7 separate regions of the Homo sapiens genome follow, and all the other regions are reported to be linked to region 1. Evidence: microRNA targets listed by miRTarBase, many of them from high-throughput screens and not tested one by one. Region 1 holds a microRNA gene; each other region holds the end of a gene's coding sequence.

The links. The annotated mature microRNA hsa-miR-4768-3p reads CCAGGAGAUCCAGAGAGAAU and lies in region 1 at 1,065-1,084, opposite strand. An mRNA with a match to its seed (bases 2 to 7 or 8) in the 3' UTR can be bound and repressed. Matches are read on the target gene's strand: a 7mer-m8 pairs with bases 2 to 8, a 7mer-A1 pairs with bases 2 to 7 and ends in A, and an 8mer does both.
Region 2: the mRNA of CENPQ is a reported target of hsa-miR-4768-3p. Seed matches in the 3' UTR shown: 8mer at 805-812.
Region 3: the mRNA of PLEKHG2 is a reported target of hsa-miR-4768-3p. Seed matches in the 3' UTR shown: 7mer-m8 at 2,459-2,465, 8mer at 2,578-2,585, 7mer-m8 at 2,768-2,774 and 7mer-A1 at 2,880-2,886.
Region 4: miRTarBase lists UTP15 as a target of hsa-miR-4768-3p. Seed matches in the 3' UTR shown: 7mer-m8 at 1,653-1,659, 7mer-A1 at 1,667-1,673, 7mer-A1 at 1,766-1,772, 7mer-m8 at 1,962-1,968, 7mer-A1 at 2,997-3,003 and 7mer-m8 at 3,103-3,109.
Region 5: miRTarBase lists SFR1 as a target of hsa-miR-4768-3p. Seed matches in the 3' UTR shown: 7mer-m8 at 915-921 and 7mer-A1 at 1,032-1,038.
Region 6: miRTarBase lists RUBCN as a target of hsa-miR-4768-3p. Seed matches in the 3' UTR shown: 7mer-m8 at 3,245-3,251.
Region 7: the mRNA of TMEM9 is a reported target of hsa-miR-4768-3p. Seed matches in the 3' UTR shown: 7mer-m8 at 3,437-3,443.

Annotation. Positions count from the first base shown.
Region 1 is chrX:17,422,944-17,427,010 of GRCh38, reverse strand. It overlaps MIR4768 (microRNA 4768), which reads right to left and starts at 1,130; the gene lies at 1,057-1,130. The region is part of intron 1 of NHS (NHS actin remodeling regulator); the gene reads right to left.
Region 2 is chr6:49,491,582-49,495,648 of GRCh38, forward strand. It overlaps CENPQ (centromere protein Q), which reads left to right. Exons shown (of 9, transcript NM_018132.4): 9 at 563-1,526. The coding sequence ends at 694. Among named protein-coding and RNA genes, the nearest start is that of GLYATL3, 6.3 kb to the right of the region's middle.
Region 3 is chr19:39,424,674-39,428,740 of GRCh38, forward strand. PLEKHG2 (pleckstrin homology and RhoGEF domain containing G2) reads left to right here. Exons shown (of 19, transcript NM_022835.3): 19 at 1-3,742. The coding sequence ends at 621. Among named protein-coding and RNA genes, the nearest start is that of RPS16, 9.2 kb to the right of the region's middle. RefSeq lists an enhancer at 3,380-4,025 and a silencer at 3,796-4,067.
Region 4 is chr5:73,579,509-73,583,575 of GRCh38, forward strand. It overlaps UTP15 (UTP15 small subunit processome component), which reads left to right. Exons shown (of 13, transcript NM_032175.4): 13 at 369-3,872. The coding sequence ends at 586. Among named protein-coding and RNA genes, the nearest start is that of UTP15, 16 kb to the left of the region's middle.
Region 5 is chr10:104,124,958-104,129,024 of GRCh38, forward strand. It overlaps SFR1 (SWI5 dependent homologous recombination repair protein 1), which reads left to right. Exons shown (of 4, transcript NM_001002759.2): 4 at 556-1,426. The coding sequence ends at 747. Among named protein-coding and RNA genes, the nearest start is that of SFR1, 4.8 kb to the left of the region's middle.
Region 6 is chr3:197,671,347-197,675,413 of GRCh38, forward strand. RUBCN (rubicon autophagy regulator) reads right to left here. Exons shown (of 20, transcript NM_014687.4): 20 at 1-3,850. The coding sequence ends at 3,672. MIR922 (microRNA 922) reads right to left here and starts at 3,230; the gene lies at 3,150-3,230.
Region 7 is chr1:201,131,920-201,135,986 of GRCh38, forward strand. It overlaps TMEM9 (transmembrane protein 9), which reads right to left. Exons shown (of 5, transcript NM_001288565.2): 5 at 2,853-3,896. The coding sequence ends at 3,744. Among named protein-coding and RNA genes, the nearest start is that of ASCL5, 6.8 kb to the left of the region's middle. RefSeq lists a silencer at 2,628-2,834.

The sequences.
Region 1 (4,067 bases):
CAGATTAATCTCAAAGCTGGAACTTCTTTAAGACCAGGAAGTAGCCCCTTTTCTGATTAAAAGACAAGTCAATAATTCTGGGTCCTTGGTCCACCACTGTGATATGTCCCTTGCAAAACAGGCACTCTCAGGCAGTCTTCCCTGCAGAGCAACCATGATGGATACTGACTACTGACTTGAAAGTGCTTTGACACCCCCAGATGGAAGGAACTAATCAATTATGCTTCTCACTTAGAGGCACCCTGCTCATTCATGCTGAAGATAGAAGTCCAGATAAAAGTAGAATTACTGGGAGTCCAAGATCCAGAAAGAAAATGAGAGAGCTCAGCTGGTCACTGTGAATGATGTGCATGTGCCCCAAGCCTTTGAAACACATGACATTTTCCAGCAGCCAAGCACTCATCAAATTGCAGAATGTCGAAGCTACAAGGAAACTTAGCAATTATTTAATGATCTAAATTACTTTTATTATAGTGAAGAGGAAGCTGAGGCCTAGAGAGGTAAAATAACCTGTCATATAGCTGAGCAGCGAAAGGAACAGACTCATTACCCTAGTGATCTCCTGTCACACAACCCATCTCATGAAGCTCTCTCTCAGGTCGAGTTTAATAGATGAGAGAACAAGGGGTAGTCTGCCTATGCAAAGCAGGTACACACAATGAGATCAGAGCAAAGGGGATTTCCTCCCCTGAAGCTAAACAGCCCCCATAAGTGATGTTACGTGTTAGGATAATTTCCTTGGTGTGCTGGAAGATGTTTCACAAGCATGGGTGGTGGGGACCCTTATTTGCCATATTTGCCAATTTCTATAGTGTAAATACTCTCATCATGGCAGATTTCAAGCTACCAACTTGATGCCACTGAACAGCAGTTGGGGAGAGATATGTGCAATCAGCTCTTGTGAGCTGATAGAAGCTGGATCCTCCACACCACTGGAATTTCTGAGAAGTCTACATCACGGGTTTAGGAATGAAATAACTTTCTGGCCCACAAGAATAAAACACCCAGGTTTATGAGGAAAATCCTAGCAGCACACACTCTAGGTTTCACTCACTGAAACTCTGATTCTCTCTGGATCTCCTGGACATCACAGTTCCCATATCCATGGGATCCAGAGAGAATCAAAGTTTGGAGAAGTTACTTGGTCCATCATGTCTGTATCTCTGGGTAGTATCCTACCTAATTGATCCAAGGCAGGAGCACTGAGAGGTGGAATCCACATTCCCTATCTTAATGCTTTTGGCAACCAAGCATTCCTTTCCCAGCAGTAACAGGATCCAGTTTCCAAGGTGATATGTGAGCTCAGAGCCCCATCTTTACCAACGTCAAAGGCAGTGCTTGGATTCAGCTTCAGGTAGGCCTCCTCTGTTCATGTAAGCAGGAAGGAAAACATGTAAAACTGAATTCCTCCTCAATTTCTTTCTTTCTTTCTTTCTTTCTTTTTTTTTTTTTTTTTTTTTTTTTTTTTTTTTTTTTTTTTTTTTTTTTGGCTGAGAAGAGTTCCAAGGCTGGGGCAGCAACTCATCAGGAAAAGTTCTTAGCCTGTGCTTTCTTTTTGCCAAACATTGATTTGCTAATAGAGAAAATAACTGGTGTATAAACAAAAGTGGTTGATGACATCCAAGGGTCTGGAGCAATTCCTCCACATCGTTCTGACAGCTAACAAATGGAACTAGCTCTTAGGGAGCATGTTTAAGGAACAGCTGGAATATGTAACGGACATTTTTCTGTGAATTTGACAGGTCAAGCTCCATCACGGTTGAGCTACGCTCACCGGACGTGGATCAGAATGAACTCTGCCATTCCTCAGAAGGTTGCCAAGAGGGCTTTGAAGAGAAGGGAATCCAAGGAACTCAGTTTCAGACATGGAGAAGAATAAAGACCAGACAAATCATGAGCAAACCTGATTTAAAGAGAAAGATCTATAAATACCAGTTGCTCAGCTTTCTCCCTGGTTTCCTGACCCTATGATGAGCTCCACCAAAATTAAGTAAGTATAGCCCTTTCCAGAGGGTCACTTGGAGGGAAGATCCTGCCATATGTCGCCTATTGGTCTTTAGCCTCACCACCACCCCAACATCTGATAAAGTCAACAGACGTGAGTTCCTAAAGGATACAGAATATACAAGATACTTTCCCTTATACAAGGATTCACTCTAAGCATCGTTAAAATGGCAAACTCACCTGGGACCCCTAAGATAACCTGATTTACCAAAATCTGGTTTATCCTTAGCATATGAGGAGCACATCCATTCTCTAAAGCAAGGAGATTTTCAAGATCAATGAGCAGAGAAACTTCTCAAAAGAATTTTATAGAATTTTTTAAGATAACAAGCAAACTAACAAATGATTGAGTAAACCTGGTACTATTCCTTTTCTTCTTCCAAACTCAAGGGAGTTATTCCAAACAATAACATACCTAGAAAAGAACCTGTGAAGATTGCAAGATTATCTAAAGAAGCCACCGGGGCAAGAGCGGTGGACATGCTTCTCCACACGGCCCTGCACCCAGACCACTCATTGTGAACTCCACCCAAATGCATAAACCTTTGGGAAGCAAAGGATGAATTGATTAGCTGCAATCTGTAGGCCCAATCAATCCATCTCCACACTGTAGGGACCTGCACAGAATCTCTCCTTAAAGTCTAGTCTTTCATGAGGAGAAATTCACCTCATAAAAGACATGATCAGAAGACATGACAGCCTGGAGGAGCAAACTACTGCTAGGTCAGTGGAAGTTCTCCTCCTGTTTGTGAAAGTGAGGAGAAAAGCACAGAGCATTTGTCCCTCAGCTTGTCTCCCTTGCAGTCTTCTCACTTATTATAATTCAAAAATTACCTCCATTTCAAGGAATCCTTCTCCTTCAGAGCTTTCAGCTCAAGGTGGCCTGGTTTGATCTCTCCTGACACCACTTCCTCCCTCCACCCCAAAGTAGATTAGGATCACCTTGGATAACCACCAGAACTTGATGATTAAAACATTCAGAGCAAAAAGATCTTCAGAGGTCATGCCAACTGATAAGCCAAGTTAGTAGCAAGGCATAAAATAAGGCATTACTGTCTTTGTTCTGTGCTGATCCATGCATTGTCCTACCTACCATGCCAGCACTTTGGTCTGTGAAATATGCAGAAAAGGCAAGAGAAACACAACTGCTGACAAGAGGATGAGGAAAGGAAGAGCACTTCCAGCAGGCATTCGCTGCCTTGCCTTAATACTTAGCACTTCCACAAGCCTTTTCATCTTCAAAGCACTTGAGGAACACTAGCTAATTAATCCTCCCAACATCCCTGCAAGGTGAGGAAGGATTATCTCCATTTTACAGATGGAGAAATGGAATATTTTGAACACAGGCATAAAACCCAGTGACAGATAGAATTGCCAGAAACTGGGCTGGGATCCTTCCTGGTGTCTTTGATGCCCACTCAAGCCTGCCAAGGTATCTCATCCCCAACCTGAGGACTGCCAAAAGCTCCTAACCAGGATCTAGCCGAGCAGACAGAGGGCCAGAGGCAAGACAGACAAGGCTCTCATGCTAACCCTTCCAAGTCTCTAATTAATTCATTATCTCACTGGACTGTCTGGTTAGGGGAGGCCTCTTTTGAAGCTTAGATGGAGGAGGAGGAGATGCCTGCTCAAGTCTTCTTCTAAGCAATGATTCGATATTCCTCTCTTATATCTTCACCCTGGTTGATATTTTAAACCATTGATGAAGACAGCACATGCAATGATAGAAATCCACATTAAATCCTTCCTGGAACCAAGGCAGGTTCTAAACAAATACATGAAAAGCCATTGGCACAGTGCTTTTATTATTCAAGTTTTCTCATATTTTGAGACAGGACTTTCTCTTAATCAAACATCAGCTGCAAATGCCAGTTGGAACCCTGATCAAAACCTCCTAATTAAATGCAGTGTAGGAATTTCATGTCTATCCCAGGCCTATTACTCAAGGCATGGTTCCAAACTGTGGTGGTCTTAGAATTTCTTGGATTTTTCAAAACGTCTAAAAATCACTTGGAGATTCAGACTGCTAGTGCATTTTCAGAATTGCCACTTTGAAGTTTGAC
Region 2 (4,067 bases), not on the chromosome of region 1:
GCATTGGAAAGTCTTCATGTTTTCTCAAGAAGTAATTTGAAATTTTCCTATTGGCTGGGCACAGTGGCTCACACCTGTAATCCCAGCACTTTGGGAGGCCAAGGCAGGCGGATTGCCTGAGGTCAGGAGTTCGAGAACAGCCTGACCAACATGGAGAAACCCCATCTCTACTAAAAATACAAAATTAGCCAGGTGTGGTGGCACATGCCTGTAATCCCAGCTATTCGGGAGGCTGAGGCAGGAGAATTGCTTGAACCTGGGAGCTGGAGGTTGCAGTGAGCCAGGACTGCGCCATTGTACTCCAGCCTGGGCAAGAAGAGCAAAACTCCACCTCAAAAAAACAAAAACAAACAAACAAACAAATCCTATCATTTACCAGTGGTGAAAGGAGCAGGATGGGGAGAGGGAGAGATAGATTTGAAAGAAGAATGGCGATTCGTTGACAATTATTGAAGTTGGATGATAGATACTTAAGGTTTATTTTACTGTTCTCTCTAACATACATTTGAGATTTCTCATAATAAAATGTTAACAACTACATTTAATACTATCTTTCCCACAGAAAGAAATTTTGGCGCTAATTCCAAACCAGAATGCTCTTCTAAAGGACTTGGATATTCTTCATAATTCATCACAGATGAAGAGCATGTCAACCTTCATTGAAGAAGCCTATAAGAAACTGGATGCATCTTAAAGAGTGTTTTTTTTTTAGATTGTTCCATATTAATTTAATGTTCGTGAATTTGTAAAACTGTTAACCTATGATTATATGTACAGAGGCTAAGGCTTCTGCAGGATTTATTATCTCCTGATATGCACTTTAAAATTAGTCTTTGTAGTTCTATCATTAGCATCTAATGTAGTTCTGAAGACTGTTTTTAGCAGTTGCCAAATCTAGGAAACTAACATTTATATTGCTGTATCTATAAGTATTTGCCTAAAACCATAAAATAGGAATTGCCTTAAGGATCTAGTAGTTTATAATGCCTGAATGGAACTCATTTATTGGTTAACAGCTCATATCAGGAGCTGTGATAAGTAAGTGTTTACATACACTGTCTAGTGCATAAAAACCTTAGTGTTTGCTATCATTCATTCTGTAGCCAATGGCTTACAGTTTCTGTCTGGTCATCTGGAACTTGAAAAATCCTCAAATGCCTTCACTCTTTTACCTAACTCCCTAGTCTTTTTGGGAAGTAGTTAAGATATGCCTGCTATCTTTAACTTTGGAGGTAGTATCAAAATTTTACTTCTTTGGTTGTTTAGTGAATTAATGTTGAATATTTTCTACTGTCATCAAAACATATTCCCAAAAAGTATTAAAAAGGAACCTTAGCACATTTATTTTATTAAAACAAGAAAACCCAAAATATATAAACCTTTTCTTATTATGATAATAAGCTTATATATGTGAATAAGTTATAACCTAGTGTATAAAAAATTATTTCTAACAAACTACAGTATACTGTCTTGGGTTTTTTTTTTTTTTTTTAGTCTGTAAAATAAAATGACTGCAATTACTTTTTTATGTGACCTATAATATCAGTTAATTTGGGAGATGCCATAATTCTGTTAACACCCTTCAGGCAGAGACCACTGGCAACAAACCTGTAGTTAAACAAGTTGGGTTTTCAGTGTAGTGAGGAGATCACACATGAGGACCCTGGGGCAGCTCAAGAAAAGGGTCACAAGCAATATCCTCATAGGAATAATGGTAAAGAAGGCCTATTAATAGATTTTGGAGGAAAATAAAATCTCAAAGAAAAACCTGGCAAAGTGACTAAAAGTAAAGATTATTACAAAATGTCTTAAAAACCCTTCACTTGGAAACTTAAAGCTTCATGTTTTTAGAATGAGTAGTAGAGCCCTAACTCAGTGATTTTTAACACTAATGTTATAGTAGCTTTTGGTGGTGGGGGAGGAATTATGTATGCCATTTCTCTCAGGGCATCTGTTTAACAGATAACTGATAGTTAACTGGGATTTTAACTTACCATTGTTGCTGAGTGATACAGTTCTTCACCCTGTGTGAACTGGCCATACTACTCTTGTAGCTTTGAAGAGTTTATAATCTAACTTTAAGAGATCTACAATATCTTCTGGTAGGTAGCATCCAATCCAAAACATACACAGTATTTTCTTTAAATAAGACTGCATTTTGGTGTACTCTTTGGAAAGAATTTAAGAATTAATTACAGATCTGTTATGGTTTGCCTAGGGTTTATTTGGCCCCACCAACCTCATGTTGAAATTTGATCCCCAATATTGGAAGCGGGGCCTGGTGGGAGTTGTTTAGATCATGGCGTGGATCGCTCATGAATGGCGTGGTGCCATAGATGCTGGTGCCATGCTTCTTGTACAGCCTGCAGAAACATGAGCCAAATCTCTTCATTAATAAATTACCCAGCCTTAAATATTCCTTTATAGCAACACTAAACATACTAAGAAAATTGGTATTCAGGAGTGAGGCATTGCTCTAAAGATGCCTGAAAATGTGGGAGTAGCTTTTGAACTGGGTAATAGGCAGAGGTTGGAAGAGTTTGGAGGGTTCAGGAGAAAACAGGGAAGACAAGGGAAAGTGTAGAACTTCTTAGAGATTGGTTAAGTAGTTGTGTACCAAAATGCTTATAGAAAAAGAGACAGCAAAGGTCATACTGAGGAAGCCTTAGATGGAAATGATGAACTTATAAGTTACTGAAGCAAAAGTCACACTTGTTACACCGTAGCAAAGAACTTGTCTGCATTGTGTCCATGCTCTAGGGCTTTATGGAAGGCTTCATTTAAGAGATGGCCTAGGGTATCTGGGAAAAGAAATTTCTAACCAGCAAAGTGCTCAGGCTGCTGCATGGTTACTTCTAACTGCTTACAGTAGAGACCAGAGGAAAATTGGAAAATGTGCAGCCTTGCCTTGTGTTAGAGAAGGAAAGAAGAGTGTTTTTAGGAGAGGAATCTAAGAGTATGACCAAGCAGCAGCAATAGTTTGCTAAAGAGATGAGCATGACTAAAAAGGGCCAGGTGCTAATAAGACTATGGAAAAAATGTCTCAAAGCTATTTCAGAAATCTTTGCCACCCCTCCCATCACAGATTAAGAAGTTTAGAATGAAAGAATGGCTTTTTGATGGGGCAGGTGATACTGCTCCCCACACCCCAGCGGCACCAGCTCAAAGGGCCTCAGGCTGCTGCTCTGGAAGGTGTACCCAGTAAGCCTTGGAGACTTCCATGTGGTGTTAAGTCTGCAAGCATGCAGAATGCAAGAGTAGTGGAGACTTGGCAGCTTCCACTTACATTTGAGAGGATGTATTAGAAAGCCTGGGTGCCCAGAAAGAAGGCTGCCACAGGGTCTGAGAGCCTCTACTAGAGAAGTGCCTAGTGGAGCAGATGGAGCAGGGGCACCACTCTCCAACCTCAGAATGGTAGAGCCACCAACAGCTTACAATCTCAGCCTGGAAGAGCTGCAGGTATTGGATTCCAACCCACGAGAGCAGCTACGTGGGCTGCACCCAGCAAAGCCATGGGGATGGGGATGCCTGAGGCTCTGGAACCCACCCCTTGAACCAGTGTTCTTAGGATGCGGGACATGGAGTCAAAGCAGATTATTTTGGAGCTTTAATATTTAATATCTGTCCTGATAGGTTTGGGACTCACATGAGGCCTATTACCCCTTTCTTCTGGCCTATTCCTCCCTTTTGGAATGGGAATGTCTGCACCACCACTGTATCTTGGAAGTAAATAACTTCTTTTTTTATTTTACAGGTTCACAGTTGTAAGGAACTTGCCTTGAGTCTCAAATGAGACTTTAGACTTTTGAGTTGATGCTGGAACAAGTTAAGACTTTGGGGGATGGAATAATTGTATTTTGCAATGCAAGAAAGACATGAGATTTGTTTTTCATGCCACCAAATCTTATGTTGAAATTTGATGCCCAATATTGGAGGTGGGGCCAGATGGGAGAAATTTGGGAACAGATCCCCCATGAATGGCTTGGTGACATTCTCCCAGGAGTAAATAAGTTCTCTTGGTTCCCATGAGAACTGCTTGTTAAAAAGCCTAGCATCTCCCCATCTCT
Region 3 (4,067 bases), not on the chromosome of region 1:
CTTCCGGAGCCAAGCCTTACAGATACACAGGTCCAAAAACTCACACCTTCGTTGGAGCAGAAGAGCCTCATAGATGCCCATGTTCCAGCTGCCACACCTTTACCTGAGAGAGGAGGCTCTCTAGACATTCAGGGCCTCTCACCCACCCCAGTTCAGACCACCATGGTTTTGTCCAAACCAGGAGGCTCCTTAGCCTCTCACGTTGCCAGGTTGGAGTCTTCAGACTTGACGCCACCTCATAGTCCCCCACCTTCCAGCCGTCAGCTCCTGGGCCCCAATGCAGCTGCCCTCTCCAGATACCTGGCAGCCTCATATATCAGCCAGAGCCTGGCTCGGCGGCAGGGGCCTGGGGGAGGGGCCCCCGCAGCCTCCCGGGGCTCCTGGTCCTCTGCTCCCACGTCACGGGCATCTTCGCCGCCCCCCCAGCCCCAGCCACCACCTCCCCCAGCCAGGCGGCTCAGCTATGCCACGACGGTTAACATCCACGTGGGCGGGGGTGGGCGGCTGCGGCCAGCCAAGGCCCAGGTCCGGTTGAACCACCCTGCTCTCTTGGCCTCCACACAGGAATCTATGGGCCTTCACAGGGCCCAGGGGGCTCCTGATGCCCCCTTCCACATGTGAGCCAGGACATGAGGCTTCCCTGAAGCAAGGATTTCAGCCAGATGCCATAGACCCTCAGAACTTGACCTGGAAGTCCAGACACTGAACGCAGGCCTCAAAACTGCTGCGGCCTTCCAACTCCTGGTATCTGCATCGGCGAATGGCCCTTCTTGCCTTGATCCACAGGGATGGGGAAGGGAGGAATGTCATTAATGTTTTGTTAATACTGATTCTTTCATGCAATGATGTGTATTTTCCCATTCTGGAGGCTGTGGGAGATGACAAGACAATGAATGGGAAGGTCTGACACAGAACAAATCAGCGGTTCTGAAAGCTTGGGGAATCTCAGACTCCTTTGAGAATTATTGGAAAATGGACCCACTATAACTTGGCGTGTGTGTGAACTGCTTGATGCCCATCCAGGAAAGCCAAGTTAAGAAGCTTTGCTTCAAGTAGACACTAGAAATCCATTCCCTTGGCAATTTATACAGTTCACGTCTCCCACCATCCGTTCATCTCACCCACCCTGCCATCTCTCCACCTATCCATCTGGCTATTGCTCCATCTAGCTTTCCCGCTCCATCTACCCATCTTCCAATCCATCATCTCACGTATCTGCCTTGCTTATCCAACTGTCTGCCTTATTCACCCACCCATCCCTTTATCATTCTAACCCCATCTGGCATTCCATCCCTCCATTTATCCATCTTCCCACTTACCCATCTTCTCCATCCAGCACTCCGTTCATCAGTCCGTCTCTCCCTCCATATTTCCATCTGTCCATTCATCCACTCATTTTGCCATCCATACATATTCACCCAGCCATCTCCCAATCCATCGACATACCCCATCCCTCCCTCACTGGACTCTCCGGGGTCTTAGTACTATGATACTTCAGAGACAATTCCATGCTGATACGGGGGAGATCAATTTTGGGGCTCTGGGATAAGTCTGTCCCACATCTGTCTGATTTCCCTTGGCATCCTTCCCGTCAGTTCCTCTTGAATATCCCAGTTCTTGTACCCACTCACATACCTCAGATCCCTTCACTCCTCCCCGCAGTTTGCAGCCTCTACAATTCATCCACATGCTCCCTCCCCCAGCAAAATAATTCAGGTCGTGGAGACAAAAGGCTTTTATGTTAGGTTCTGTCTGCCCCCTTGTTCCAGCAGTGGTATGCCCAGTGAGAGGCACAATTTAAACGGTTTCTTTGGTGATGATATTAGCTACTTTCATCAAATACTTAGCCTCTTGTGCTTTAGCACATTATTTATGTAAGCTCCCCTAGGATTCTCTGAAGCACCCTGGTGTCCTGGCTGTGAATTCAAGTCCCATCTTTACTTATTTGGTGTGGGTCCTCCCTCTGAGCCGGTTTTCTCATCTACAAAATGAAGACAACAGTACTTCCCTCCTGGGATCATTGAAAGATTTAGGGAGCATATCCTTCCACTTCCCAAACATATTTGAACCTCTGACTTGCTTAGGAGCATCATTCAAATCACAGATCCCCCAGTATCTAGTCCCAACCTATTGAATCAGGATCCCCAGGGAAGGAGGAGCTTGGGAATCTGATTTTTTTTTTTTTTTTTAGATAAAGTCTCACTCTGTCACCCAGGCTTGAGTGCAGTGGCAAAATCTTGGCTCATTGCAACCTCCACCTCCTGGGTTCAAGCAATTCTCATGCCTCAGCTTCCCGACATAGCTGGGATTATAGGCGTGCACCACCATGCCCAGCTAATTTTTCGTTGTTGTTGTTGTTGTTTTGTTTTTGAGACAGAGTCTCGCTCTGTTGCCCAGGCTGGAGTACAGTGGCACGATCTTGGCTCACTGCAAGCTCCGCTTCCCGGGTTCACGCCATTCTCCTGCCTCAGCCTCCCGAGTAGCTGGGACCACAGGTGCCCGCCACCACGCCCGGCTAATTTTTTTGGTATTTTTAGTAGAGACGGGGTTTTACCATGTTAGCCAGGATGGTCTCGATCTCCTGACCTCGTGATCCTCCCGCCTCGGCCTCCCAAAGTGCTGGCATTACAGGCGTGAGCCATCATTCCTGGCTGGGAATCCGAATTTTTTTTTTTTTTTAGACGGAGTTTCGCTCTTGTTGCCCAGGCTGGAGTTCAATAGCATGATCTCGGCTCACTGCAACCTCTGCCTCCCAGGTTCAAGTGATTCTCCTGCCTCTAGCTGGGATTGCAGGCGCCCACGACCACGCCCAGCTAATTTTTGTATTTTGTAGTAGAGACGGGATTTCGCCATATTGGCCAGGCCATAGTGGTCTTGGACTCCTGACCTCAGGTGATCCGCCCACCTCGGCCTCCCAAAGTGTTGGGTTTACAGGCGTGAGCTACCATACCCTGCCCAGGAATCTGAATTTTTAGCAATCAGTTAGCAGCAAATAAGCTGAGATTTCCTGGGTACTAAGCACATACTATGAGCATTACAGCCGCTTTATATAAGCTCGTTCACTGTCCTCATTACATTCCTAATATGCAAGTGAGCATGTTTTTTAATCCTCAGTCTAGAGGTGAGGAAACTGAGGCAGGCACAGAGAGGCTAAGGGATTTGCCTAGTCGCACAGCTAGGAAGGTGCAGCACTGAGACTCGAATCCACACAGCTTGGCTTAAGTCTACCATTAAATTTGCCTGTCCTGGCCAGGTGCGGTGGCTCACGCCTGTAATCCCAACACTTCGTGAGGCCAAGGCAGGTGGATCACTTGAAGTGAGGAGTTCGAGACCACACCAGCCTGGCCAACATGGTGAAATCCCGTCTTTACTAAAAATACAAAAAATTAGCTGGGCGTGGTGGTGGGTGCCGGTAATCCTAGCTACTCAGGAGGCTGAGGCAGGAGAATCACTTGAACCTGGGAGGTGGAGGTTGCAGTGAACCGAGATTGCGCCACTAGACTCCAGCCTGGGAGACGAGCAAAACTGTCTCAAAAAAATAAAATGAAATACATAAATAAATGTGCCTATCCTGTGCCGGGTGCTGTTCTTGCCAGTGGGGATACATGAGAGAACACTGCCTTGCCCGCATGAGGCTTGTGGCCTGGTACTGTGCACACCTCAGGGGATTCTGATAATTAGCTGAGCACAGTTGCCAGCACAGGGCCTGGCTCAATAAATATTAGCTGCTGGCTTCTGCTCACTTACTGTTTATTGACTGGCTACTGTACACCAGGGCCGAGGCTGTGTCCCGGGGGCCCCGTGGTGACGGAGGTGAACTCCTCAGCCTGGAGTGATCCACTCCACTGGAGCCTCCCCAAGGTCAGGACCGCAGCCGACGCTCCCCTCCTCCGCCCCAGCTGCACATTCCCGGCTGAAGGAAAGTTCTCAGCCTGGCCCAGGCTCCCAGCGGCGTCGGAATTCCCGGTATTCGAGGAGGCAGGGAGGGAGAAGGGGCCTGTCTACTCCAAGGCCTGGAGCTGGGAAGGAGAGGCAAGCCCCTTTCCAGTCCAGATGTGTCCCAGCTG
Region 4 (4,067 bases), not on the chromosome of region 1:
ACAACAAGTCAGTGCAGTTTAAAAAGTAGTAAAATGTTTATAGTGGTGTGACTTTGAATTGATGGGACTAGGGTTATTATAAAAAATTTTTTTCATAGACATCTATAATGACGATGACAATTTTTCAAATGGGAAAATGAAAATAAGTCAGGAACTCCACCCTATACTTTCTGTAATTATTATTTTTTGAAATTAATTTACTCAGAGGGATTGTTATACTTTCTATAAATCATTAATTAATTATAAAATAAGTACAGATTTTTCAGTGTTCTTATGTTTAATATTTTTATACTTTTAAAAACTTTTGCTTTTCACTTAATGTATGGAAAGATATTGCTAGTTAATGTGTTTTCTTTCTCTCTTTTTAGATATATATCTGCCTGTAATTGGTCAGTCCCCTGTAGTTGATAAAAAGTTTTTACTACTTCAAGGACTTGTAGAAAAAGAGATTGATTACCAAAGAGAATTGTTAGAAACCTTGGGGATGATGGATATGCTTTTTGCCACCATGAGAAGGAAGGAAGGCACTTCTGTGTTGGAACACACATCTGATGGATTTCCAGAGAATAAGAAGATAGAATCATAGTGTCTGCTAAATAAGACATATAAGAACTCTGAAGTTGGAATAGATTTGACTGTATTAAATGTTGGCGAGAGACTCTCTTTGATACATTAAAAAAACTGTTTGCAGAAGCAGTTCTGTGGAAGAGACTGGAATAATTATGGCCGGAAAACAAGTACCCGTTTTAAGTAAGACATGGTTTTCCATGTAATATTTTGAATTATAGCATCTTCACCTAGAAGATCTCAATTGTCTTAGTCACAGAGTAGGTTTATCTGGGATGGATATTAATTTTAATACAGGAGTGTTCTGTATCAACATTTGGGTTGGTATTCAGATGGGAATTCAAATATGAATCCTCTCTGGAGAGGGTCCAACTGGGAATCCTGCTAAAGGAGCAAAGCCTTGTATTACCTCTGGAAGACAACAAAAACAATTGGCAACAACAAAAAGCCTCTTTCTTGACTTTAATCAGTGCCTTTGGGATTTCTAGGCCCTTGCTTAGCTTGCTTCCTGTCTCCTTGATATCTACACTTGTCTTAGATCACATGCCCTGCTTCAGCTGGTAATGGGACTGCATCGGTTCCAAGTGTGGCAAGTAAGTTTTCGGCTCTGAAGAACTGACACTAGCTAGATTTGTATTCAGAGTGTGAGAGCAAGCTCTACAGATAGACCTTATTGGACTACTTTTTTTTTTTTCTTCATGCAGCCTTTCTACCAAGTTTTCACCTTGTTTCAGGTCAGAGGAATGATAGAATTTGTCATTTTTCTTACAACAGCCTTTCAGACTATTCTTCATATGTTTCAAGCTAATCTTGTAGCTAAGCTACCTAATCCTCTGAAAACTGTTTTCTCTGATTTGTATTTAGATTCCTCCCCCCATTATTCACAATCATATTGTATTTCGGAACCCCAATGCAGAGCAGTTTGCTTTGAAAAATAGTTGTTTTTAAAAGTTTAATGTAAATAATTATTTTTTAGAAGTTTTTTTTTTTTTTTTAAAGACAGGGTCTCGCTTTATCGCCCAGGCTGGAGTACAGTGATGCAATCTCAGTCCACTGCAACCTCTGCCCTCCCGGGTTTAAGCAGTTCTCCTGCCTCAGCCTCCTGAGTAGCTGGGATTACAGGTGTGCCCCACCACGCCTGGCTAATTTTTGTAGTTTTAGTAGAGACGGGGTTTCACCTTACCGGGCTGGTCTAAAACTCCTGACCTCAAGTGATCTACCTGCCTCTGCCTCCCGAAGTGCTTGGATTACAGGTGTGAGCCACTGTGTCCAGCCTGTAACTATTATTTTTTTATAAAGAGAGATTCTTATTTTCTTGGCTTTTTGATGTATCTGTTCCTGATAGATAATCATTGGCTAGTAACTCCTAGTACACTGGTTTCACAGTTGCTACCTCTCCTGCTTTTCTCTAATTATTACGCCAACTCAAGTAGTTAAAAATCAGTAAGAAAAATGTCTTGAGCTAGAAGAACCCATAGAGGAAGATTTTGTAATGCGAATCTCCTCTCATAATTTTAGTTCTGTAAATTCAGGGTTTTTTTTTGTTTTTTTGTTTTTTTTAAGCCGAAAAAATGCTTAATATGTTCCAGTAAGGGTATTAAGTAAAAATTAAATAAACGTATTAAGTTTAACATATTAAATTAATTTAACATTTAGACTAACATTAACATTTAAATTAATATGTTAAGTGAATATACTTAATATATTCTAGTACAGGTATGCTTGGAAATAGGGCGTTTCCTTTTCATGAATTGATTTCGTACAGCACAGTGGCTTATAAGGAACCAGCAGTGTTTTTCCCTGAGTAATTATGAACTTAGTCAAGATCAGAAGCTGGGTTTTGGGGTTGAGAAGAGTTCATTTATTTAAATAAAGTTTCTATTTAAAAACCTTTTTAAAAAGTTAACATCATAAATATTCTGATAATTTGCATAGTAGTAAAAATTAGAAGTTGAAATTCTACCTAAAGCTGTAGTTGCCGTCAATTGTGTAACATGTGACAAAGGTTTTCCCATATGTCATTTCATTTGATTCTCACCACAACCATCCAAGGTTGATGTTATTCTCATTTAACATTGAGTTAACGAAAGTAGTTGATTCACTCTCGAAGTCCCTGAGTGTGAGCTCTTCATCCTAGCACTGTGAAGTGGTTTGCCTGCTGGGGCCTAAACTCCTCATTCCCTTTAACAAAGCTTCACTGAGTGCTGCAGTTCTCAAAATATGTAACAGTTAACACATTTTTCAAACAGGTTAGGAAGCAATTCCCATAGCCATCAATACTTAAATTCAGGAGTACTTTTTTGTTTGTTTGTTTTGTTTTGTTTTTAGAGACAAGGTCTCTTTCTGTTGTCCAGGCTGGAGTGTAGTGGTGTGATCATAGCTCACTGCAGCTTCTGTCTCCTAGGCTGAAGCTATCCTCCCACCTCAGCCTCCTGAGAAGCTGGGGCTACAGGGATGAGCCACCATGCCCAGCTAATTTTTTATTTTGATTTTTTGAGATAAGAGGTCTCACCATGTTGCCCAGGCCTGAGGCAATCTCCTGGTTTCAAGCAATCTTCCCACCTCAGCCTCCTTAATGACTGGGATTAAAGGCATGAGCCACTGCGCCCAGCAGGAATGGTTATTATATTCATTGAGATAAACTGTAGTATTTGCTGTTTGAAGTATTTAAACATAATTGGCATATTACAATATGTGACACTGGCCTTAAGATTCTAATTTAAAATGCTTAACAGACTTTTAGACTTATGAGTTTCAGTTGAAAGGTATTTTAAAATGTTACTAAGTCTGCAAAAGTACTGAAATGTTTCAGAGAACTTGGAAAGTCACCGTATGTTTAATTTATTATGTTTATGAGATTTAAGCACTTGGGAAGGTTTATGCTAATGGGGTCAAGCATTTGCAATGCTGCTTAAAAGAATCATTTTTTTAAATGTATAAATGCTATTAAGTTGTTTAAAGGAATTTGAATTGTAAATGGGATTGTTAAAACAAATTTAGTCTGTTCAACTCAATGAGGGCATTTCATTTTCTAGGAACAAAATACCCTCTTAGACATTAAAAAGCCGCATGCCTGTTCCCTCAGCTATAGTTAACTGGACCATGGTGGTACAACTGACTCAACCCTTCTCTAAGCAGGGATTTGTAATTGGGATTTATAATGAAATTCCTGATCTGGGAAAATGGGAGGCTGGGAATGCTATGTCTAGGTCATCAGCGGAGAAAGTTGGTTTGTAGAGAATGAACAAGAATGAAACCTAAGTGCAAAGAAAATAAAGATTATCCTGCTTTAATAGTTCAGACTAGAGGAGAGAGAAACCATCTTAGTTCCTGATGACTTCCTATTGCCCTATTCTGGTTGTACCTCTTCCCCCAGGGGTCCATGATATTTTTGGATTCCCTCTAACACTTGTTTGCTTAGTTGACTGTGAGTGGTTTTCTCTTATTTACAACCAAATGACTCTGAAAACACTAATCCACTGGTCCTGATATTTATTGAG
Region 5 (4,067 bases), not on the chromosome of region 1:
GGCTAATTTTTTAAAATTATTTTTTTGTAGACATAGAGTCTTGCTATTTTGCACAGTGTAGTCTTGAACTCCTGGGCTCAAGCAGTCCTCCCACCTTGGCCTCCTAAGGTGCTGGGATCCCAGGTGTGAGCCACCATCCCCAGCCTAAAAAAATATTTTTAACTTGAATATTGTAATTTTAAAGAGCAGTTTTAGGTTCATAGCAACATTTAGTGGAAAGCATAGTGTCATTTTTTAAAAAGTACAGTTGTAATACAGTAGATTTTTCCCTGTATTATTGCTTCTTGACATAGTTTTGGCCCTATTTAATGATTTGATTTTTCCCTTATCATAAAGATGGCCCAGAGCTTAAGCCAACAAAATAGCCATAGAACTCAAGTTGAGTGACATTGTAACCATTCTACATATGACCATCCTACTTTTTCCTAGATAGAAGTCCCATTCATCCCTGTGTATGTTAGCCTTTAAACCTGCACATCCACTAATTTAACAACTTTAATTAAGTTGAACTAGCATGACTAGTTATTGACATACATGTTTTTTTTTCTGTTTCAGAATGATCTGTCTCAGTTACAGTTGTTAATAAAGAAGTGGAGAAGCTGTAGCCAGCTCTTGCTTTATGAGTTGCAGTCAGCTGTGTCTGAAGAGAACAAGAAACTAAGCCTTACTCAATTGATAGACCACTATGGGTTAGATGATAAATTACTACACTATAACAGAAGTGAAGAAGAATTTATAGATGTTTAATTCCTGATTTTTGCTCCAGAATATCTTTGAGAATGACAACTTAATTAAAAGATACTTAGGCACTTTTTTTTTTTTTTTGAGACTGAGTTTCGCTCTTGTCATCCTGGCTGGAGTGTGATGGTGCGATCTTGACTCACTGCAACCTCTGCCTCTCGGGTTCCAGCAATTCTCCTGCCTCAGCCTCCCGAGTAGCTGAGATTACAGGCGCCCGCCACCATGCCCGGCTAATTTTTGCATTTTTAGTAGAGACTGGGTTTCACCACGTTGGCCAGGCTGGTCTCGAACTCCTGACCTCAGGTGATCCACCGCCTAGGCCTCCCAAAACCATTAGGGCTCAGAGGAAGGTATCCCAATGAATATCAATTAAGGGCACTTTAATATATAAATTATAAACTAAGTTCTAAAAGGAAAATTAGTATTTTGGATAGATTTGTCAAAACGACATTTAAGTCATGTTTAAAAAGTCATTTGGGCAGTTCTGGAAACTAGTTTTAATACATTTGTTTTTTATGACAAAAAGTTTTATTTTAAATGTTAAAAATTGTCCAATCTGGTGAATGTCTAACCCTAAAGTTTAAAAATTTCTGCCTCCTAAGTTTATGTACCTTGTTTCCATCCATTTACCACATATTTCCATCTGATAGTCTAGCAGGTAATTAAACTTATATGTCCAAAACCATATTCTTCCCTGTCTCTTCAAATGTGTTTTGCATATTCATCATTTAGTGAAACAACCATCTATTTCTTCTTCTTTTTTTTTTTGAGACAGAGTTTTGCTCTTGTTGCCCAGGCTGGAGTGCAATGGCACGATCTTGGCTCACCGCAACTTCCGCCTCTGAGGTTTAAGTGATTCTACTGCCTCAGCCTCCCGAGTAGCTGGGATTACAGGCATGAGCCACCACCCTGGCTAATTTTGTATTTTTAGTAGAGACGGGGTTTCTCCATGTTGGTTAGGCTGGTCTTGAACTCCTGACTTCAGGTGATCTGCCCGCCTCAGCCTCCCAAAGTGCTGGGATTACAGGCATGAGCCACCACACCCGGCTAAACCATCTACTTCTTATAAAACTACATTTCCTTATCTCCCACCCACATGAAGGTATCATGGCATATAAGGTTCTTCGCATTTGTTTGCCTTTCTAGCTTCATCTGTGAAATGGGTTAAATTTAGATTGGTTATTCTATTTATGAACCCACCTCCACAGGTTGGGTTTCTGCTGCCAAATTATACAGTTGTACCTATCATTTTGGCCATATATGGAGATAGGACCCAAACTGGGCCAGTCTCTGAAAATTTGGAATTTAGCTCAGGAAAAGAAAGCCCATCTCTTTTTGTGACTGCAGCTGTTGTATATATACCTGGAAGCAGCAGAGCTGACATGCTTAAGGGCAGTGAGTGTGCTTACCGAGAAAGGCAGAGGTGATAGGAGAGAATTTTATGGATCAGTGGCTTCCTGGTTTTAGTTGCTAGTCATTCTTAAGAGCTTTCTGGATTTCTGCTTTTGGGTCCTTTTAAGTGTTAAAACAGCTTTACTTAGCTTTTTCAAAAGCACTTCCCTACTAGTTTAGCACTCCTCTGAACCCCCCTCAAGTACATCCCACTTTCAGTCCAGTCCCTCCACATAATCTAACCAGTGTTGAATGGTTGGCACAGCAGGAGACGCCAGGGCCCTGCTTTTGTGTCCATTCTAATTGTTAGTGCCATGCCAGTAAACTCTTACCCTGCCCACATACACAAATTCCTGTGCCGCTGGCCTTTATGAATCTGAGGAGACTGGCCCAGACATCATATGAGCTGCCTCTAGCACTGGGATTCCTAGATGGGCACCCCTGTGGACTTCTACTGTTCTAGTGCTTATCAGCCAGCCTCTTATCACTGCTTGCTGCCAACCAGGGGCCTAAATGTGGCAGGGGAAATGTTGCCCCTTGTGGTGGTGCTGGCATTTTGTAGGTCATTATGGTATTTCTCCAGATCTCAGAGGCTGCAGCTGCCCACTGCTGACAGGCACATCACCTGGAGCCACCCATATATATACACTTGGGGGAAATACAGCATCAGCGAGACTCTGGTTCTGGGAAAGCTTAGGGGCATGGTAATGGGGATTTCCAGGGCATTGACTGGGTGCTGAGGTTCCAACAGCACAGCAGCTGCTCTGTTGGATTTAATGGGATGCTTTTATTAAAAACCACTGACTATGACAGCTTTACTTATAAAAATGAGAGCTAATACAACATAGCACTTGTTTTTAATTTTAAAAAACTAGAATATTCCAGTTTTAAAGAAGAAGAAATATAAGATAGTTATTTCAAAATTAAGAGGTTATTTAAAACTCCAATGGCAGAGCCAAGATTTGAAGCCCAGGAATAGATCCTATAATTTTAATTCCTATGCATAAAGCCATACTGTGTCTGATCCAGTTAATTATATCACTAGTTGATAATATAAATAATATTTTAAAGGACTATAAAATATGAATATATTTGCTGTTCAGCAGAAGCTGAGAGGAGTCAATACCATGAACAGTATTAAGAGAGGAGTTACTGTGCATGACCCACATGTCCTTCCAAAGCCCCAAAACCAGAAGGTATCTCCCGTTGAAAGGGCTTCTGGAATAGGGCTTGATGGCAAGAGGTGCCCACTAAGCCCCACTCCATCCATGCCTCAAAGTAAGGCAGTCAAGCAAGGAACATTGCCAGAGTCAACAAAGGTTGATGACTAAGAAATAGAAATGATGCCGGCTGCTTTGTTAAGACCTGGGAATCCACAGAGCATTATCTAGTGAAATTTGTGGCACTACTAGCAAATGGAGTCTCCAGACAGCTAACTTAGGTGAAAATGGAGTTTGTGTCACCAGAAAAGATTGTAAAAAAAATCAAGTCTAGTACATCTATGGTTGACTCAAACCAACAGGACAGAGAACTTCTGGCAATACCATCTTAAGTATAAAGTATTTGCACCCCTACCCTGGGGTCTGTCCCCACAACTCTCATCTCAGGGATAATTTTGAAGGACCCCAGATGTAGGAAATGGTACCCATGGGCACTTCCCTACTGAATACGCCAAACTGACTACTTCATGAGTCCGTCTAGTACAAAGGAGGGGAATCATCAAAGTGTTGGTCCTATCATTTCCCTTACCATCCCCATCCAGCACAGATCACTATGTGGGTGATCAATTACATCTTCTAAAGATTTATTTTGCTAAACAGAAGATTTTATAGTAGCTCTCTTGCTTTATCTACATCAGTGTATATTGGATATGGTACTGAGGATTAAACTTAACGTTGAGTTCATAAATTGCAGAACAGTGAGACAGTGACATC
Region 6 (4,067 bases), not on the chromosome of region 1:
ACTGAGGCGCAGGGAGGAAAATAATGTATGATCAAGAACACCTGAATTTGTGTGCTAGTGGCAGAAAAGTAATGAGAGATTTATTTTAGAGGAAAACATCCACAGAACTTGATGACAGGGAGTAGGAATGAGACGATGCGTGATGAGCTCAGTGTGCCACTTACAGAGGAAGTTGAAGACAATTAATTTTCAAACCTGGGTGACTAATGGTTAGGTTTTTGGAAATACGGAATTTATGCTGGTTTTAGACACACTGGTTGGAGATGACAAGGGGACATTTAAGGGGAAATGTTGAGAGAGTTGCAGCGTAGAGCTGGAGCTCCAGTGGGCCAGGAGCAGAAGAGAAAGATGCTAGCTGCTCACAGAAGTGGGAACTGAAGCATCTAAGGCAAGTCAGATGTTGCGGAGAGGAAGACACCTCATTTTAAGTGACAGTTACACCATGCACCAGAAACCCAGAGAAGTGAAGTGGTTCGCTCGAGGTCTCATGGCAAGTTAGAGACACAGCCACTCCACCTCACTTTCCTTGATGTGTGTGGTCCAGTTTGCTTTACATTATAACACAGAAACCTTCTCAATGTTCAGATATACCTGCTTTACAGTGGACACATGCCATTTCTTGACAGTCAAGGCAGGCTGACGAAAGACAGAATTTTATTTCCTTAGTTTATTAAAGATGACAATGAACTGCCAGGCTGCACAAGCACCACAGCAGGTGGAAACGCAGTTCAGAGCACGGGCGGCACACACGGAACATCTCTACTAAGACTCGCACTCCTTTTATGTTAGTTCAACGAAAGCTCTAAATCCTTGGCAGAGAACGTCAAAAACAGCCTCATTTAAGTGGAAAATATTTGTCTTCCACTCTTCTGCTATGTCTTGAATCTTGTCTCCACCTGGTAAGCAAACTATGTTTTTTTTCTTTCCCTTTACTTACAGAAAGAACACTATCACCTGCCTTCATTTAGAAGGAATTCTCTTCAGTGCATTCAAAGCTTCTCCCCGCAACAGCAGGGGATTTTCAGATAGTGGTAACTTGCAAAGTGCTTCCAAAACATCCCATCCTCTACCCACTTCCCCCCTCTTGAATAAATAACTGGGTATTTGGAAGGTGAGGACGGCATCGTGTCAGAGTCACTAAAACAGACGCACGATCTAAAGGGATGGGGTGCGGTTGAGGGAGCTAGGGAAAAATAAGTGACAAGTGAGGAGCCTATGAGACTGTTGAGTTCGGCTTCAGAAGCTGTCAGCATTGTCATCCTTTGATCCTATGCTGATGTGAAACAGGCAGGACAAGACGGCACATCTGTCCTCCAGCGCAGTGACCTGGAGAAAGAGCTGGATGTGTCACCTTTTTGTTTTTTGAGACGGAGTCTCACTCTGTCACCCAGGCTGGAGTGCGGTGGCGCAATCTCGGCTCACTGCAACCTCTGCCTCCCAGGTTCAAGCGATTCTCCTGCCTCAGCCTCCCAAGTAGCTGGGATTACAGGCGTGTGCCACCACGCCCAGCTAATTTTTGTATTTTTGGAAGAGACAGGGTTTCACCACATTGGCCAGGCTGGTCTCAAACTCCTGACCTCATGATCCGCCCGCACTGGCCTCCCAAAGTGCTGGGATTACAGGTGTGAGCCACTGTGCCTGGCCTGGATGTGTAATTTAAACCAAAACTGGAAGTAGAGCTCATTTTTATAAACTCCTGGGTCTGAATCTGGGACCTAACCCCTAGTTAAACTTGAGTTCTGTGGGGTCATTCTTAAAGCTCCCTGAAGGACCTGGGCACTTCTAGTCACAGCCCTTCAGAACTTCTGGGACTTGGCTTTTTGAGTCTCACTATGAACAGAAGGGAGAACAGCCTCAGGGTCTTCTAGCCCTACATGGCTTTCAGATCCCAACTTTGAGGCAGAGGAATCAAGGGCAGGGGCCAGTTCCCACATGTTCCCTCTCACGCTGGTGGAGCCTCAGCCCTGGCCATCACCTTAATGCCTCTCCCACTTCCCTGGGAGACTCCTTCTTACCGCCAGCTCAAGCTCTCATCAGCTTCCACCAACCACAGGCAACTTTCCGCTCAGCTTCCAGGGCAGCACCCACGCCCATTTCTTTCCTACCAGCAAGCAACTATGAGAAGACATGCCCATGGGCAGAATTCAATCCCAGAACAAAAATGATGCAGGCTTTAGTTCACAGAGCTGCCAGCTCTTGGAGAAGCCACTCTGACCAGTGTTTTCACAGAGGTTAGAAGCTGCATCAACTTAAGGAACATCACAAACACACACATGGCCCCACCCAAGGACTTCACTGTCAACACACACATTAACGGGGGGGAAGGGGGAGGCAGCACACCAAAATCAGCATTATCAAAAGGACTTCACCATCAACACACATTAACGGGGGGAGGGGGGCAGCACACTAAAATCAGCATTATCAAATGAACAGATAAACATTACCAGGCTACACAGAGTTAAGTGCATAATTGGCATAAAGGCTCTTGTTATCCCAAGAACACAGGGACATTCACACTCACATCCACAAACCGTCAAGTTCTGTAACAGCACTAATAGCAGGAAGCTTTTCTCCAACTTTGACCAAAGAAGCTAAGGCAAGAGAGACTCGGCCACCAGGGAAGGACCCAGCTCTGCTGCAGGAAGGGGAGAGAACGGAGTCGGGTTGTACTTTTACTCAGAAGCACAACGACCATCTAACAGAGGACAGAGTCATCAGGGACACGCTAAGAAGATGGTGGGTGAGGTTCCTGTCCTCACCTTAGGATGGCATCAGGGACCTGCCTGAGCTTCAAAGATCACACCTGCACCAAAAAGCCAGGTTAACTAAGAGACCTTAACACCAAGAGGGGGCCGACCGCTCCTCTGAGTAAGCGCTCCTTCAGCGACAGAGCTGGCGCCTCACGTATGCTTGCGGCGTAAGGCTACAGGTGAGCCTGGCCTGAGCATCAGTTCTGTTCTTTGCTTCAAGATCACCAAGGTAGATGAAGAAAGTCAGCTTGTGGCATCCTCTATGCTTCAAATATTTCAAACAGGAACTCCCGGCAACATAGGGACATTCACAGCTGCCTCTGAGGTCTCTGAGGAGTCTAGGATAGTCAGGATTGTTCTGTGGCCCCCAAAATACCCAAATAAGTGGACGAAATGCCCATGACGTAGTCCTATTCTCTGCTGCTTCTCCTCGGGGCACAGTCTGACCCCAGTCCAGGACAGGGAGAGGGAAAACGCCATCCCCGTTTCAGCAGCAGGAGAGGTGGTTGAGAAAGGCCTGGCTCAGAAGCTCCAGAACTGAAACAAAGGAAAATTGGAAATGATACCTGACATGCAGGTGAAACCTAGAGGAGAAGGCCACAGACGCTGGAAGAACTTGGTCTTGCTGTCTCTTCCACTGACAGAGGCACTAGAAGCTTCACTGAAGGACCCGCATGTCAGTTCTGATGGAAACACCTGGTGTTTACAAATTATCTGTCACCACAGACTCTGGACCCATCAACCTGCCGACGGCTGACTGCACACAGACGTCAGACAAGTCAGTAAAAAAAAAAAAAAAGATGATGATAATTAAAAAAAAAAAAAAAAAAAGAAGCCCCAGGTGGGGCGAGTCCTTCAAAGAGTGGCTCAGTTCTGCAACAGGTGTGACCCGGCCCGGAGGGAGGGCTGCACGTGCTTTCTTCAGGTGGCCTCCAGGACGGCGGCTTCCAGGGCCAGCGCTTCCGCGGGCTCCTCCTCGTAGTCTGACAGGTAAGACTCCAGGCTCTGCCTGGCCAGTGCCTCCCGCCGGGCCTGCAGCCGCTCGCAGCGCGGACAGCTTCCAGACTTGAAGCAGGCTTTATGGTAACACGCTTTACACTCTACTCAGGTTGGGAAGGTGGGGGAGAGAAGAAAACAATTTGTATTATCTCCAGCTAGAGGTCAGTTGCTGCCACAGCCCCTTCTCGCCACCAAGGCGTGGTGTCCCCTGGGGAGGCCCCGCGAGGTGCTGAGTGGCACCGAACTCTTGCTAACAGGGGTGGCTCTGGGGAATCAAGGAGCCCTGTGTTCAGGCTCACTTGCCCGATGCCTGCACCT
Region 7 (4,067 bases), not on the chromosome of region 1:
GTTGGCTTTGAACAGGAACACACTATCCCCAAGGCTGTAGCAAAGGCAGTCAGGATGAGTATGAATGAAGAATGATTTAACAATGGGGCTGAGTTAAGAAATCACTCCATTTTCTTGAAGTCATAAGCAAGATTTTCTAGGGAAGGGAGACGGGGAGACAGGAAGGTTGTCTAGTGGCCTCAAGAGTGAGCCTCATGGGAGGATTATTGGCCCTCATGGGGGAAGGGAGGGGGTGGAGGCCATGCACCTGCCAGGGCACCCTCAGCCTCTGTGGCAGCACTGGGCTGCCCAGGGAGGAGCAGGGAAGTCAGACTGGGTGGGATTGGGGTTTTGCTGGCAGATGTGTAACAATGGATGCCAGGAAACGAGAGGAGGAGGAGGACCAAGTCGGGCTAGGTGAGAAATGAAGGAAAGGCCACGAGGAAGCAGGCTGGCCTCTCCATCAGCCTCCCTGTGAGCCACACGAGGGATGAGTGCTGGTCTCTAATCGTGGAGACCAATTCTTAAGGCTCAGGTTCCCAGGGCCAACCCCAACCAGTTGTTTTTCCAGGTGGGACCAATCTATTACAGAACAGCATGGTTGGTGGGTTTGAGGGAAGACAGGATTCTGAACACAACAGCACCAAGTTCTGTTCCTTTTTTTTTTTTGGAGACGGAGTCTTGCTCTGTTGCCAGGCTGGAGCGCAGTGGCACGATCTCAGCTCACTGCAAGCTCCACCTCCCTGGTTTAAGCGAGCCTCCTGCCCCAGCCTCCCGAGTAGCTGGGACTACAGGCAGGCGCCACCACACCCAGCTAATTTCTGTATCTTTTGTAGACAGGGTTTCGCCATGTTAGCCAGGATGGTCTCGATCTCTTGACCTCGTGATGCCGCCCGCCTTGGCCTCCCAAAGTGCTGAGATTACAGGCGTGAGCCACCATGCCCAGCCAAGTTCTGTTCCTTTTACATCATACGAGACAGGGTGAAGAACGTCATTTCTGATCTTTTCCATCATTGGCTGCAGGGGTCTTCATCTCTGTTCCAAATACCAGCCAAGCAGTGTGCTCACCCCTTTGCTGGGGATCTCCGCCCCTTCATATTCACAGAAAGATGAAGTGTACTCTGCCATCGTCTGAAAATCGGGTTTTGTGTGTGTGAAGTTGAGACACAATGAGACGTTTGGTTACTAGTTGAATCCTTAGTAAAGTGAACAGTCACTCCTAATCTTTTATAAATGTTCATATACTGGACTTATAGTTCGGCTTATTTATAGTTAACAACAGTTGTCCCAAAAACCACCAAAGCCAGTTTGGATCATCTGCAGGACTTACCCAAGCCTCAGAGAAATATAGCACTCAATGTTTCCCCCAGGGCATGTGGTTTTACAGGGGAGACCTGGCAATGTTAGGCACCAATTTCTGGCCTGGTTATTCTTGCTAAGTTAATACACCCACCTGCCCACCTTTGGAAAGTGCTGCTTTTGTATGCCTCTTGAAATAAGAGCATCCCCATCCTGAAAGAATAAAATAGCCCACTGTAGCTTCCACAGCAGTACTTGACCCTGGTAGGCACTGAGCAGCTGTCTAGTAAATGACCCAGTAGAAATGTTGTCAGCACCAACTCCTCTGTCCCAGCCTTGCATTTGGGGGCACATCTATCGCTTGCTAGCCCTACCACAAACTTCCTAAGTGCACTTGCTCAGGACCCCACAATCCACTTGGTCCCCTCTCAGCTGTGTCCCTTGTTTCCAATGCCAACCAGAGTCTCTGCTCCTCCTGGGAGCCCCATCTGCAGGTCACCCCAGTCCCATCCCCTTTACGCTTCTGTCTTGGAACTTTGGCAAACTGTTGCAAACTGACCCCCCATCTCACGTCGTTCTCTTGCCTCCCACACCTCTCCAAGAACCCAGCATGGGGGCCCACACAAAGGTTTTTTTTTGTTTGTTTTGTTTTGTTTTGAGACGGAGTCTTGCTTTGTTCCCCAGGCTGGAGTGCAGTGGCGCGATCTCAGCTCACTGCAAGCTCCGCCTGCCGGGTTCATGCCATTCTCCTGCCTCAGCCTCCCGAGTAGCTGGGACTACAGGTGCTCGCCACCATGCCCAGCAAATTTTTTGTATTTTTTTTAGTAGAGATGGGGTTTCACCGTGTTAGCCAGGATGGTCTTGATCTCCTGACCTCATGATCCGCCCGCCTCGGCCTCCCAATGTGCTGGGATTACAGGCGTGAGCCACCGCGCCCAGCCCACAAAGGTTCTTAATCCATGTTTATTTGGACAACCCTGATGACACCAGATCAGCTCAGTCCCTCTAGATGCCTTGCCTCTGCCTGGGTCTTGGACATGCCCTGCACCGCACATCCATACTGGAGCTGACGCAGTGCCGGGCTCCCCTGGATGTCCCTGTTGAAGCTGCTGGCATTTCCTTCTGTATGGGGCAGCTCGTTTTCTAGCTGCCCCCACCCACCCCTCTCCAAATACCTGTTGGTTTTCATTTGGGGATACTTACAGGTTTTGCAGGGAGCGCTATTTACTGTGTCTGTAGGATATTAGGATGAATCACGCACTGTTCAGTTTCAGAGGAACTGCCCATAAACATGAAGTAAAATCTCAGGATAACTCCCAAGGGCCAGTTCACCCTGTGCTCCTTGCCCCAGCCTACCCACCTCTTTCCTAATCAGGTGAGGAGGACTTCCAGCAAGCCGTGGCCTTGGCCTGATTGCACTGTGGCTGGCTCTGCCACGGCCGCCTGGACTTCCCAAGGCTCTGCCTGTCTGGACCTAGCAAAACGCAATGCTCTCTGTCCCCTCTGGGATACTACATTTACCAGGTCACTTGTGAAAAATTCCTAGTTCCCTAAATCTCTTAAAAACCAGAAAGTGAGAGAAATAAAACAATTTAATGATGGCTTCCTTGATTTACACACAACTCTAAGACAAGAGGACAAAATTTTCTCTCCATGCACTGGTACAACGAAGTTCAGGGACAAGAGGCAACCCAAGTACAGGGGCTGTGGTGTTCAGATCCACGCTCAGCCTCGAGTCTCATGTTCCAACCGACCGTCTGGCTCAGTGACTGTGGACACTGGGGAGAGGAGGGACTGCCCAGACCCCTCAAGTGCAGGTGAGGGGACCGGCAGCAGAGTATGCATGGGCACTCCATGCCCCAGTGCGAGAAGTGCACAGGGGACAGCGAACACCAGCTTCCAGTGCACCCTGAAGACCCAGTGGGCTCAGGGGGCCCAGCTCTCCCATCAGAGCTGTCCTCAGGGCTGGAGCTGGGGCTGGGGCTGAGGCGCTGGGGCTGGGAGGGAGGTGGTGATAAGAACCACTGCAGAAAGGAACACATGCTGAATGCTGGGCCATGCTTTCCTCCCAGACACTGAGTTCCTGAAGACCCAGCTTTATCTTCCAAGGGTAACAACATTCCCAAGACTCAGAGCTGGAAGGCGGCAAGAGTGGAGCCAGGAGAGACAGATCGCATCCACTCCTGAGGCCGCCTCGAATGTCTCCATTCCCTTCTGGCCTGCCTTCCCCCTCCCTTCAACCCCAAAGACCCAAGAAGACAACAGAGATCAGAGACCACATCCCTCTTCCCTAATCAAAATAGCCAAGTACAACATTTCTAAAGTTAGGGAGAAGGAGGAAAAATGCCACAGGCTTTTAAAGGGAAGACTGGAACCGAGGGAAGGGAGAAGTAGCCCCCTGCTTTGTCCAGCCTGGAAGCTGGCAGCCATGGTGTTGGGGCCTTGACCCAACCACACCAGCCCATCTAGCTGAGCATCTTGTGCCGATCGAAGACTGTCTTCCGCTGCTCCTGCACCTGCAGCTTCCACCGCTGCTGGGCACCTTCCACACGCTCCAGGACTGTGTTTGCTCGGGGTCCCCCGAGGGATGCAGCAGCTGCTGCCATAGAGCGAGCATCCTGTAGTGGGAAGAAAAAAAGAGAAGATCTGGCACGGTAAGCCAGAAGGGTCTTGGATCCTGAAAGTCTGACATGGAAAGAACGAACCCCAAAGCCTTACCTTCCCCAGACTGGGAGGCTGGGCCTCCCCAAGTGCTGCAGGCTGAGGACCTTGCCTTGTCATCTGCAGAG